Regions from separate parts of the Homo sapiens genome. Here region 2 is linked to region 1. Evidence: fine-mapped expression QTL. A gene starts in region 1. The other region holds a variant in brackets. All regions are shown on one strand. Distances are between the middles of the regions.

Evidence for each region. PIP is the estimated chance that this variant, and not a neighbour inherited with it, causes the effect. A credible set is the group of variants that fine-mapping cannot tell apart.
Region 2: its variant is the best candidate, but not a certain one, in a credible set for the expression of SLURP2 in sigmoid colon (GTEx, PIP 0.60).

Annotation. Positions count from the first base shown.
Region 1 is chr8:142,766,759-142,772,114 of GRCh38, reverse strand. It overlaps SLURP2 (secreted LY6/PLAUR domain containing 2), which reads left to right and starts at 2,287. Exons shown (of 3, transcript NM_177458.3): 1 at 2,287-2,360. The coding sequence starts at 2,309. All of the region lies in intron 3 of LYNX1-SLURP2 (LYNX1-SLURP2 readthrough), which reads left to right. It overlaps LYNX1 (Ly6/neurotoxin 1), which reads left to right. Exons shown (of 4, transcript NM_177477.4): 4 at 1-913.
Region 2 is chr8:143,692,619-143,697,974 of GRCh38, reverse strand. ZNF707 (zinc finger protein 707) reads right to left here. Exons shown (of 6, transcript NM_001100598.2): 6 at 2,590-4,304. The coding sequence ends at 3,445. It overlaps LINC02878 (long intergenic non-protein coding RNA 2878), which reads right to left and starts at 860. Exons shown (of 2, transcript NR_015445.1): 1 at 334-860; 2 at 1-36. The variant G/C (reference allele first, on the strand shown) is at 3,164.

The DNA.
Region 1 (5,356 bases):
GAACTGGACAGGAGTGGCTGCTTGGGCGGGCTCTGGCACCCTGGGATGTTATACATTCTGGGAACTGGACAGGAGTGGCTGCTTGGGTGGGCTCTGGCACCCTGGGATGTTATACATTCTGGGAACTGCAATCAGCCACTAGAGAAGTCGGAGCTACAGGAAGTGACCCTGGGGTGGGACCTGGGGACATGGCCAGGTCAGCATGGGGACACCCGGCTCCAGCAGGAGCTCTGGTCTGTCCTGGGGTCTTTGGGGGCAGGGCTGCGGCCCTGGGCAGGCTTCCTCCAGGCGGAGGTCCTGGGGAAGTGGGGGAGCCAGGCCAGCTGCCGCCTCCCCCACTATGTAGCATCTGATTCGTCATCTCTCATGAAGGCGATTTGGTTCATAACTCTGAAACTCTGAAAAAGGTCAAAAGAAGCAGAGAGGCCCTCGGTGGATATGCCAGCTTTTCTGCCGGTGCTTTCTCCCACTACTCTGGGTGGTCTGCTCTCCTCTTCAAACCTCAGCTCGCAGGGAGGGCCTGAATCTGCCAGCCCCTCAGGATCTCCTTCCCTCTGGGCCCTCCCCAGCCTTAAGGAGCCTCCCAGACAGAAGGGTGGACAGAGCCACCTGGGCAGCCCGAGAGACACACGGGGGTCCTCCCTGTGGACAGCCCTGCCAGCTTCCGCCCAGCCCTGAGCTTCATTTGCATCTTGAGGAGTAAGGGGTGGTGAAATGGGAATGCTGGTCTGGCTCAGCTGGTCGTGGGCATAAGTGCCCGCTGAATGGATGGCATCTCTCCCTCCTGTCTTATGTTCTGGGGTCCAGGTGCTTCCCAGGGCCATGCCCCTGCTGCTAATGCTTGCCCTAACCCTTACCCTAACCAGCGTCCAGCGTCGTCTCACCGAGCCGTAAATAAATCAACAGATTCGCATTGTCTGCGCTTCTCTCCAGCCCCACTGCCTCGGCCTGAGCTCGGGCCTCACCTTTCCAGCCTGGCTGGGCTGGCACTCCAGGCTGCATGCAGCCACTTTCCTGTCTACCCTACCCGGTCCAGGTCCTGGACTTTTCTGGCCTCTAGGCCTGACCTGTCCTCGGAGCCAGGCACAGGGAGGGAGACAGGCAGGGCTCCTGGGGCTTGCTGAGAGTTGCTCCCAGTTCCGTGGGAGAGAGGCCACCCCCCACCCAGCACCCCTGAGGGGCATACAAACCCCTGAGGAAGTCTGGGTGTGCGGGGTAAGGGAGGCGGGAACTCCCCCAGGACCCCATCCCACCATCTCTGACCTCTCTGCCTACCTGGTTCCTGACCCCAGCTTCTCGACTGCCCCAGGAAGGAGGGCCTGGATCTGCCAGCCCCTCTTTCAGGATCTCCCTCCTCCTGGGCCCACCTCCCAGCCATAAGGAGCCCCCGAAACGGAGGGGTAGACAGAAGCCATGTGGGCAGCCCGAGAGACACATAGGGGTCCCCGGGTTGGCATGGCTGACTGGCTACGGACAGGCCCTTTGGGGCCCCAGCCCCTGGCCAGCCTTTGGAGGAACAGCTGATGGCTCCCGCTCTCCAGGGTGTCCCTTCTGGGCTCTTACCTTATCCTTGGGGTCCCTTTTAGTACCAAGGGCCTTTCTGTCCCCCCTACTCCTCTGCACAGATCCTGGGGCGTTAGTCACAGTGTGACAATGGCCATGATTCCCTGTACGGATGACAGAGAGGTGGCTCACAACCATGCTCCCTCTGTGTTCTCCCAGCCCTGCGGGGGTCAGGATGGGAAAGCTCTGGCTTATTTGGAGGAGGTCTTGTCATGGAACTCATTCTAGGGTGGGAGTACAGATGAAGGCCTGTGGCTTCCACCCAGCCCTGAGCTTCATGTGCATTTTGAGGCGTAAGGGGTGGGCTGGTGGCTGGTGCCCAAGACCCTCCTTCCCACCAGACCTTCCTTCCCAGCCTCTGAGGGAGACCGGCCTGTGGCCGTCACCTGCCTGGTGCCAGGCCTTCCTTCCCAGCCACTGAGGGAGAGTGGCCTGTGGCCATTGCTTGCCTGGTGCCAGGCCATTTTATCAGATCCTCAATCCTGTCAGCCAGGGCTATCCCTACTTTATGGACAAGGAGAGATGGCTCATGAGATGACACCGGCCCGCTCAGAGGCCTAACCAGCGAGCTTTGGGGCCAGGTTGGCCCCTACCGCCCGGACCCCAGCCCGGCTCCTTGACTGAGCCCGGCTGCCTGGTGACTCAGACCCGCAGAGTCTGCTGAGCGGGCGAGGGCCAGGGCGGGGTGCCAGCAGGTATAAGGCAGCCGGCCAGGGCGCCGACAGCCCGACCTCACCAGGAGAACATGCAGCTCGGCACTGGGCTCCTGCTGGCCGCCGTCCTGAGCCTGCAGCTGGGTGAGTCCAGGGGCTGGGGCCACCTCCTGCTCAAGGCCCCCATCACTCTAGCCCAACCACCGTCCCTCCAGCCCTGGGCTGTGACTGCCCACCTCGGGAGAACCCATTCCTGTCCCCCCACCATCTACCAGGTGCAGCTTTCCTCCGAAAGCCTCCTGCGATCCTGCAGGTCCATCCAGCTCAGCCCCAGCCCCCGACACTGGCCCCCACACTTCTCAGGATGCACAGCCCTTGGCTCAAACCCCCCTCTTCCTCTGCCCAGCCCCCAGACCTCTCCAGTCCACCGCGACACCCCTCACACACGCACCTTCGTGCACGTGCACACACACACTCTGAATGTGCCCCCCTCCAGCCCTCTTGGGCCTGGCCTCCCAGCTGGTTTGTCTCCTGGGGCCACCCTCCCGGGACTCCCTCTTCCCTCTTGCCTGGGAAAACCAAGTCCCTCTGCTCTCCCATCCCCAGTTCCTGCTCCCGGGTCCTCTCCTCTGCTCCCCGCTTTCCTGGGTGATTTTACCCCCTCCCCATCCCCCAACCCTCGACCCCCGCAGTGCCCACGTCTGCTACGGCTGGCCCTGTCCCCCCAGCTTCAGATCCCTTGGCCCAGGGCCTTCCTGAGGGCTCCAAGGGGATGACCCCTCAAGCACAGCTGTGCACACCTGGCCTTGGCATCCCCCAGCAGAGCCTGAACGTCTTCTCTTGGCAGGGCATCTCCACCCCCACCCTGAGGCCTCAACAAAACCAGCTGGCCCCTTGATCTGCCGGTGGCCTGCACCTCCAAGCCCAAGCAGCCCAGCCCCCCAGGGGCCAAGCCTCTGCGTCCCTGGCTGTGGGTTGAACGACCTGGGCAGCCCCTGCCTCCCAGGCCCTGAATGAGCAGGGGGTGGAGCGTCGGTGAGTCCCTGGCGCTGGCTCAGGTGTCTCTTACATCCCTCCAGTCTCCATCCCCAGGGGCACCCTCCTGGCCTATGAGAGGCTGAGCCGCTGACCCTGAGGACTGCCCCAGGGTCATGAGGGCAGACCAGCTCTGTGCTGAAGGTCCGAGACACACAGGGGCCTGGGGACTCGACTTAACCTGGAGAAGGCCTTTGTAACCATCAGGACTGGACAGGCAGTCAGGTGGCCATCCAGGCCAGGGATGGCACATCACAGGAGCCTCTGCCTGGGTGCCCGGTGCCCACGGACTCCCCTCTGACCCAGAGGCCCTTCCCTGCACCAGGGCTCCTGGAGCCCTTCCTTCTGCTGAAATCCCACCTGCCCCTCGAGGAACAAGCCCCAAGCTGCCTCACTGCTCTTCCGGTTGGAGGACTGGCGAGCCTCTCTCAGGGGCACCTGCATCCCCTGTCATTGCTTGGTGTCTGCTCTCTGCCATACATGGACAGCACAATCTCCCCGAGGGGCCAGCCTGCTTCAGAGCCAGCACGGGGGTCCCCAGTGGGAGAGACCTGCCCCCAGCCATGCAGCTACACCCAGAGCCCATCCCACCATCCTGTTTGTCCCTCCATTATTCCTGCCCCCTCCCCCCCACCCCACCTCCCTCCTCCTCTCTATTCCTCCTCCCTCCTTCCCTTCCTTCCTTCCTCTCCTCCTCCCTCCCTTCCTCTCTCCTCTTCTCCCCCTGATCTCCCCTCCCTCCCGTGTGTCAGGCGCCAGTCTGAACACTGTCCCTGTGTCCTCACAGTCACCATCGAGCAGCCTTTCCGGTTTGGAGCTAACATTTTATCTGCTTCCCTCAGGATCTCATTGCTGAAAATCAAAAACCCTCTGATAAGGGACAGAATTATTATTTCTCTTGATAACCCAACCTGCAACCACCCCCGGAATTCATTCATTCATTCATTCATTCATTCATTCATTTATTCATTCATTCTGCAAGCCTCTCCTGGGCCTCATTAAGTGCAGGGGAGGGAGCACTGAGGAATGGGTAGAACGCCCTGCCCAGCCTCAGAGGCCCTCATGCTTGGGTGGGGGTGAGGAAGGAGCCCTGAGCACAATCACTTGGAGCAGGGACACTGATGCCAGCTGGGGCAGGATGCTGCAGTTCACGGTGGGTGTGTCAGAGTTGGAACCATTCACTCTGCCCTGGAAACCAAGGAGGCCTTCCTGGAGGGGGTGGCATTTGCACCAGGGCTTGTTTTGCCCAGAGGGCAGGAGGAACAGCAAGTTCAAAGCCAGGGAGGCCTTGGGAGCGTGGGCATGTGTAGTGGACAGGCTGGAGCTGGTTCTCTCCATGGCACCCTTGGGCACCCATATCCTCACCTCCTCCTTCTGGTGCCCCAGCCTCCTGCCCATCTTCCCTGCTACCCCCCACCCCAGCCAGCTGTGGCCTGTGGCTGCCAGTGTTGAGTAGAGGCGTGTCCGACTTATTGGCTGTCACTAGGTTGGATGTGACAGCCAAGGGGAGCTTCAAGCCACTTTGGTGGGAAGGCAGAGAGGGGCTTGGAGGCAGCTGTCACCACCTTTCTTTCTCGAAGGTGGGGTCTCAGCTTGCTCTCCGGGGCTGGTAGAGGGGCCAAAGCTGATGGCAGGGGCCTGCCCTGGCCGGAACTTCCCATCTGTGTCACCTTCTCCGTGGTGCCTCGATGGAGGATTCCGCCCACAGGACCCAGGGGTGACCAGAGGACTCTGGCCCGTGGCAGGGGCCTGGTGTGCACTGAGGTCTGAGGTCAGCTCAGTGCTGGTGCATACAGAGCCATGCTGTCAGGAACCCGGGTTTGGAGCTGGCACTGACTGGGGCTGACTCCAGCCCTTCTCCACCTTTGGCAACAGTGAGGCGGGGGCAGCCCAGCAGAGATGGGATAGGGCAGGCGTGGGCTCCTGTGTCCTGAGGCTGGGCTGCCTGGGGCACAGCTCAAGAGGAAGCCAGGGCCTGCGCCTGGTGCCTGTGACAGAGCAGCCCTCACATCCTTATGGCCACACCATTGGCCTTGTCACCCTGCAGGCTCCTATGCAGAGAGAGCAGGCCTGGGGCCAGCAGGTGTTAGGGACTCTGCTTACCC
Region 2 (5,356 bases), 930 kb before region 1:
TGCTGAGCGCTAACACAAAGGCCAGGCAAGTGTCCCCTGGAGACAGAGGGGTGGAAGGCTAGGTCACAGGCATGGCTGTCAACGGACCCTGCTGTGCACCCATTCTGGCCGCGAAGTAGCTTCATGCATTCTCTGCCCAAGATAAATGCAGAGAAAACTCGGCTCTACAGGCTCACAGGGAGTGACGGCTGCTGGCCCCAGGAAGGAAGATGCTCCTTACGGGACACCTGCTGTGAGCCCCTTCTGTCACCCCACCCCCGCCTGGGTGGTGAGGAGGCCAACAGGGCAAGATGCAGAGCCTCCCGGCCCCTCACACCCCCATGGGCTCCTCACCACCATTCTCTCCCCAGGCCTTTTCTGTGGACCTGACCTTCTTCAGCGACCCAGGAGGCAGGAAGGGAAGCCTGAGTGTTAGAAGGAAAGACAACTAAGAGCAGCAGCCTGACCGCAGCTGAGCACGGTCGTGCTCCTCCCTGGGGAAGTGCCAAGGGAGGGACCCCCTGCTCTACCCGGAGCCCTGGAGCCCTGCTAAGCAGGGTGGAAAGCCTGCAGCCCGGGGGGTACCGCGACTGTGGCCCAACCATCCAGTGTGTGAGCCCTGGATGATGAGGCCACCAAGAGCAAGGCAGCCCGCTTGGACAACTGACCATCATCTGACGAGGCAGCGCATCACCCACGTCTCTGCTGTTCACATTTAATCCTGCACAAGAGCGTCACAAAGTGACAGCATTGTGAGGGACTAACGACCAGGCACAGGTGACCCTGGACGCGGCCAGTGGCTTCCTGCAGGGCGCTCAAAACCCAAGTCCTTATGATCCGCCGCATCTACTGCCGAGACACCAGCTGCTCCGTCCCCACCTGTGCTCAAGCACCTGAAGGCCCTTCCAACGGCGCCCGCTGGGCAGGGGACAAACCAGACACGAAACACACATGCGCTTTTACCAGCCTGGACTCTGTAAGAGAAAGGCACCCCCATATCCCCCCTGGGGAGATTTCCACTTATCCTGCAGGGCCCTCACTGCCTCACCGGGCTCTGCCAGGGCCTGCCCCGCAGGGGCAAGTGCTTTTCCTACACAGGGTCTGTGGGCCAGGACAGACCCAGAGGAGCTTCTGCTACGGGCTGAATGGTCACTCTGAAATTCCCATGTGGAAGCCCTAGGCCCGACGTGATGGTATGAGGAGGTCTCTGGGAGGTGATTTGGCTTCGATGGGGTGATAGGGGTCATGGGATCCGGGCCCTCACAAGGAAAAGGTGACACCAAAGCCCCTCCTGACATGAGGATGCCTCTGAACCAGGAGGCGCTCGCCGGAAACGGACCCTGTTGGCACCTCTACCTCGGACTTCCAGCCTGCAGAGCTGGAGAGAATAAACCTGTGTTGTCTGTGGGGCTGCCGGTGGTGTCCTGGTAAGGCAGCCCTGTGACTCCATGACCGACAGCTGCTCTCTACAATCTTCCGTGAGCACGAAGAAACTCATACTCATGCTGCAAATAAAAGATTTGGGGAACTTTTAAGCACACCAACCTCCCGGCTTCAACAGCTGTCAACATTCAGCCAATACTGTTGTGTCTTTCTCCTCTTTATTAGAATCGTAAAGTACATCCCAGGCGCCACGTCATTTCCCCACAAAGACGTCCAAATGCATCTGAGTGAGGATTCCTCCGTAACCCTGTGTCACCATCACCGCTAGCAGCCAATTCCGCACCCCCACCCGACTCACGGCCCACCCACCCGACTCACGGCCCACCCACGCAACTCACGGCCCACCACGCAACTCACGGCCACCCACCCGACTCACAGCCCACCCACCCGACTCACGGCCACCCACACGACTCAGTCCATCCACCCGACTCACGGCCCACCCACCCGACTCAGTCCATCCACCCGACTCACGGCCCACCCACCCGACTCAGTCCATCCACCCGACTCACGGCCCACCCACCCGACTCAGTCCATCCACCCGACTCACGGCCCACCCACCCGACTCAGTCCATCCACCCGACTCACGGCCCACCCACCCGACTCAGTCCATCCACCCGACTCACGGCCCACCCACCCGACTCAGTCCATCCACCCGACTCACGGCCCACCCACCCGACTCAGTCCATCCACCCGACTCACGGCCTACCCACCCGACTCACGGCCCGTGCCCACATTTCCATGATTGTCTCAAAAGTGACTTCGCACTCGGTTTGCTCCTACCAGGGTCACACACAGCCCCCTCGGCCTTTCTGCGTGCCCGTCTTCCCACAGAAACGTCGCCGTCTGGTGGCATCTCCAGCCGGATCTGGCTCAGGGCTTCCTCTCGGTGTGTTCAACCTTCTCCTCATCCCCCTATTTCTTGTAAACTCGTTTCTGATTCCAACATTACATATGCATCTGTTGGCTGGAATTTTTTTTTTGAGACGGAGTTTCACTCTTACTGCCCAGGCTGGAGTGCAATGGCGCAACCTTGGCTCACCACAACCTCCACCTCCCGGATTCAAACGATTCTCCTGCCTCAGCCTCCCGAGTAGCTGGGATTTCAGGCGTGAGCCACCACGCCTGGCCTGGCTGCAATTCTTAAAGAAAAACAGGCAAAAGCAAAAATAATTGGCTAACCTGAAACACGGCAGTGTCCCGACCCATTCCCACGGGGGTCTTCCCTTGGGAACACCACTGGCAGATTTTTATTTCTGGCTGGATAAGCAGACACCTTAAGTTTAAAACAAAGAGGTCACCTCTTCCCCCACGAAATGCGATGTGGTGGATATGGCCACCTCACTGCCCTGAGACCCAACTTGATCTCCCAACTCCAGGTGCATGACCCAGGCTCTGACCAACAGAGCTGGGTGGAGGCCGTTCCTGCAGCACTGGGGGTGGCCCTGACCTAACCACCACTCCTAATCCTTGAATGAGGTTCAGTATTACAAAGGCTCTTGTTTCTACGGCCCAGCGCAGAGGCTGCAGGAGGGTCTTTGCCTCTGTGCAATGCTCACAGCTGCCTCGCCCAAGACAGAGACAAGAAGGGAAGCCAGACCGGGCAGCCAGCATGGGGTGCAGAGCCAGGAAGGAAAGGCCCAGCAGACGGCGACTCGGGGCCAGGGTGGAGTCCCTGAGCCAGACGGCTGTGGGCACCAGGCAGGCTTCTCCGCCTCTGAGCCCGGCCTGGCACGTGGCTCCG[G/C]GGTCGCGCACACTCTCAGCACATCCCCAGGATGCCCGGCGCCGGGGCGCAGCCCCCGCCATCTCCAGAGCCCCCGCCATCTCCGGCGTACCCATGGCTCTGCTTCTCCCACCTGGCAGTTTTCCCAGTAAACTTCTCGGGGGACTGGGGAGCTCTGAGGACTAAGAAGGCTTCTCTGAATTCAGGTTGATTTTCCAGGCTGAAGAGCAACTTCTCACTGCAGCTCTCCCTCAGGACCCAGTACTCCCGCAGAGGCGCAGCACCCCACTCTTCGGGCGCCCCTACACCTCCCCGTGCCTGTGAGTCCTCTGATGCCGCGTGAAGAACCCCAGGTGACGGAAGCCTTTCCCACAGTGGCCGCACTCGTAGAACCTCTTCGTCAGGTGCAGCCTCCGGTGGATGCTGAAGCCCTTGGGCCACCGGAAGGACTTGCCGCACTCGGCACAGGTGTAGGGCTTCTCCCCGCTGTGGACCCTCTGGTGGTGGCTGAGGTTCTCCTTGGTCCGGAAGGCTTTGCCGCAGTCCGCGCAGTAGAACGGCCGCTCCCCGGTGTGCACCAGCTGGTGTCTGAGAAGGTTGGACTTCTGCTTGAAGGCTTTCCCACAGTCGCCACACGAGTAGGGCCTGTGCTCGGTGTGGACCTTGCGGTGCTGAGCCAGGCGGTCCTTCAGGCTGAACGCCTGCCCGCAGGCCTCGCAGCAGAAGGGCTTCTCGCGCGTGTGGTTCTTCTGGTGGCGCTGCAGGTTTGAAGCCCACCGGAAGGTCTGGCCGCACTCGGGGCACTCGAAGGCCTTGGTTCCCGTGTGCACCGTCTGGTGAGCGAGCAGCCGGCTGTGGCAGCTGAGCGCCTTCCCGCACGTGCCGCAGATGAATGACAGCTCTACTGCGCGCTGCTTCCGGCGCTCTCTGCGGCCCGGCCGCCGCCCACAACGCTGCGTGAGCACCTGACACGGGAAAGCCGTGGGCTTGGCGTCTGTCCTTTCTGGAGCAGCTCTGGGAAGCTGCCCGTCATCCGTGTCCAGCCTGAAGCCCTTCCTAAAGCTGCTTCCTTCCCTGGCTCTTTCTCGCCGCACGTGGGTTTTCTTGTGAGCCCAAGCTGGATGATCACAAGGTCTCTTGGGGTCTGCAGACTTCCTTGCCCCTGTGGAAGGAACAGACACCCTTACACAGAGCCAGTGGCCCACAGCCAGGCAGTGCCTCCAGCAAAGCCCAGAGGAGGCCGGGCGCGGTGGCTCACGCCTGTAATCCCAGCACTTTGGGAGGCCGAGGCGGGTGGATCATGAGGTCAGGAGATCGAGACCATCCTGGCTAACAAGGTGAAACCCCGTCTCTACTAAAAAAAAAAAAATACAAAAAATTAGCCGGGCGCAGTGGCGGGCGCCTGTGGTCCCAGCTACTCGGGAGGCTGAGGCAGGAGAATGGCGTGAACCCGGGAAGCGGAGCTTGCAGTGAGCCGAGATTGCGCCACTGCAGTCCGCAGTCCAGCCTGGGCGACAGAGCGAGACTCCGTCTCAAAAAAAAAAAAAAAGCCCAGAGGACCCTCCTGCTGTGTGCGTGGACTGGCTTCCATTGACTCAGCTCATTCCACATGGTTACGAGTGATCAGGAAAACTCGTTCAAAGAAACACAGATGAGCCACAGGTATCAACAGCGGAAGCCAAGATGAGCTCAGATGCTTCCCCAGCCCCGGTGGTACGCAGGCCACCCGGCACTGCTGACGTGAGGGAGAGCCGACACATGCCTGCCAACCAACAGAAGCAACTGGGCCAAGAGAATGTCCTTTCACCCTGTCCACGCCAGCAGGCCCCACTCATGCGGGTGGAGGTGGTGCTAGGATGTCGTCTAGAAGACGGGTAGCTCCACCTGATTCTCAACCACTCAGCCTCAGAGCCATGGCTCCCTTCAGCCGGGGGCTCCACACACCCGGGGATGCGACACCTCCCCAGCCGGGGGCTCCACACACCCGGGGATGCGACACCTCCCCAGCCGGGGGCTCCACACACCCGGGGATGCGACACCTCCCCAGCCGGGGGCTCCACACACCCGGGGATGCGACACCTCCCCAGCCGGGGGCTCCACACACCCGGGGATCCGACACCTCCCCAGCCGGGGGCTCCACACACCCGGGGATGCGACACCTCCCCAGCCGGGGGCTCCACACACCCGGGGATCCGACACCTCCCCAGCCGGGGG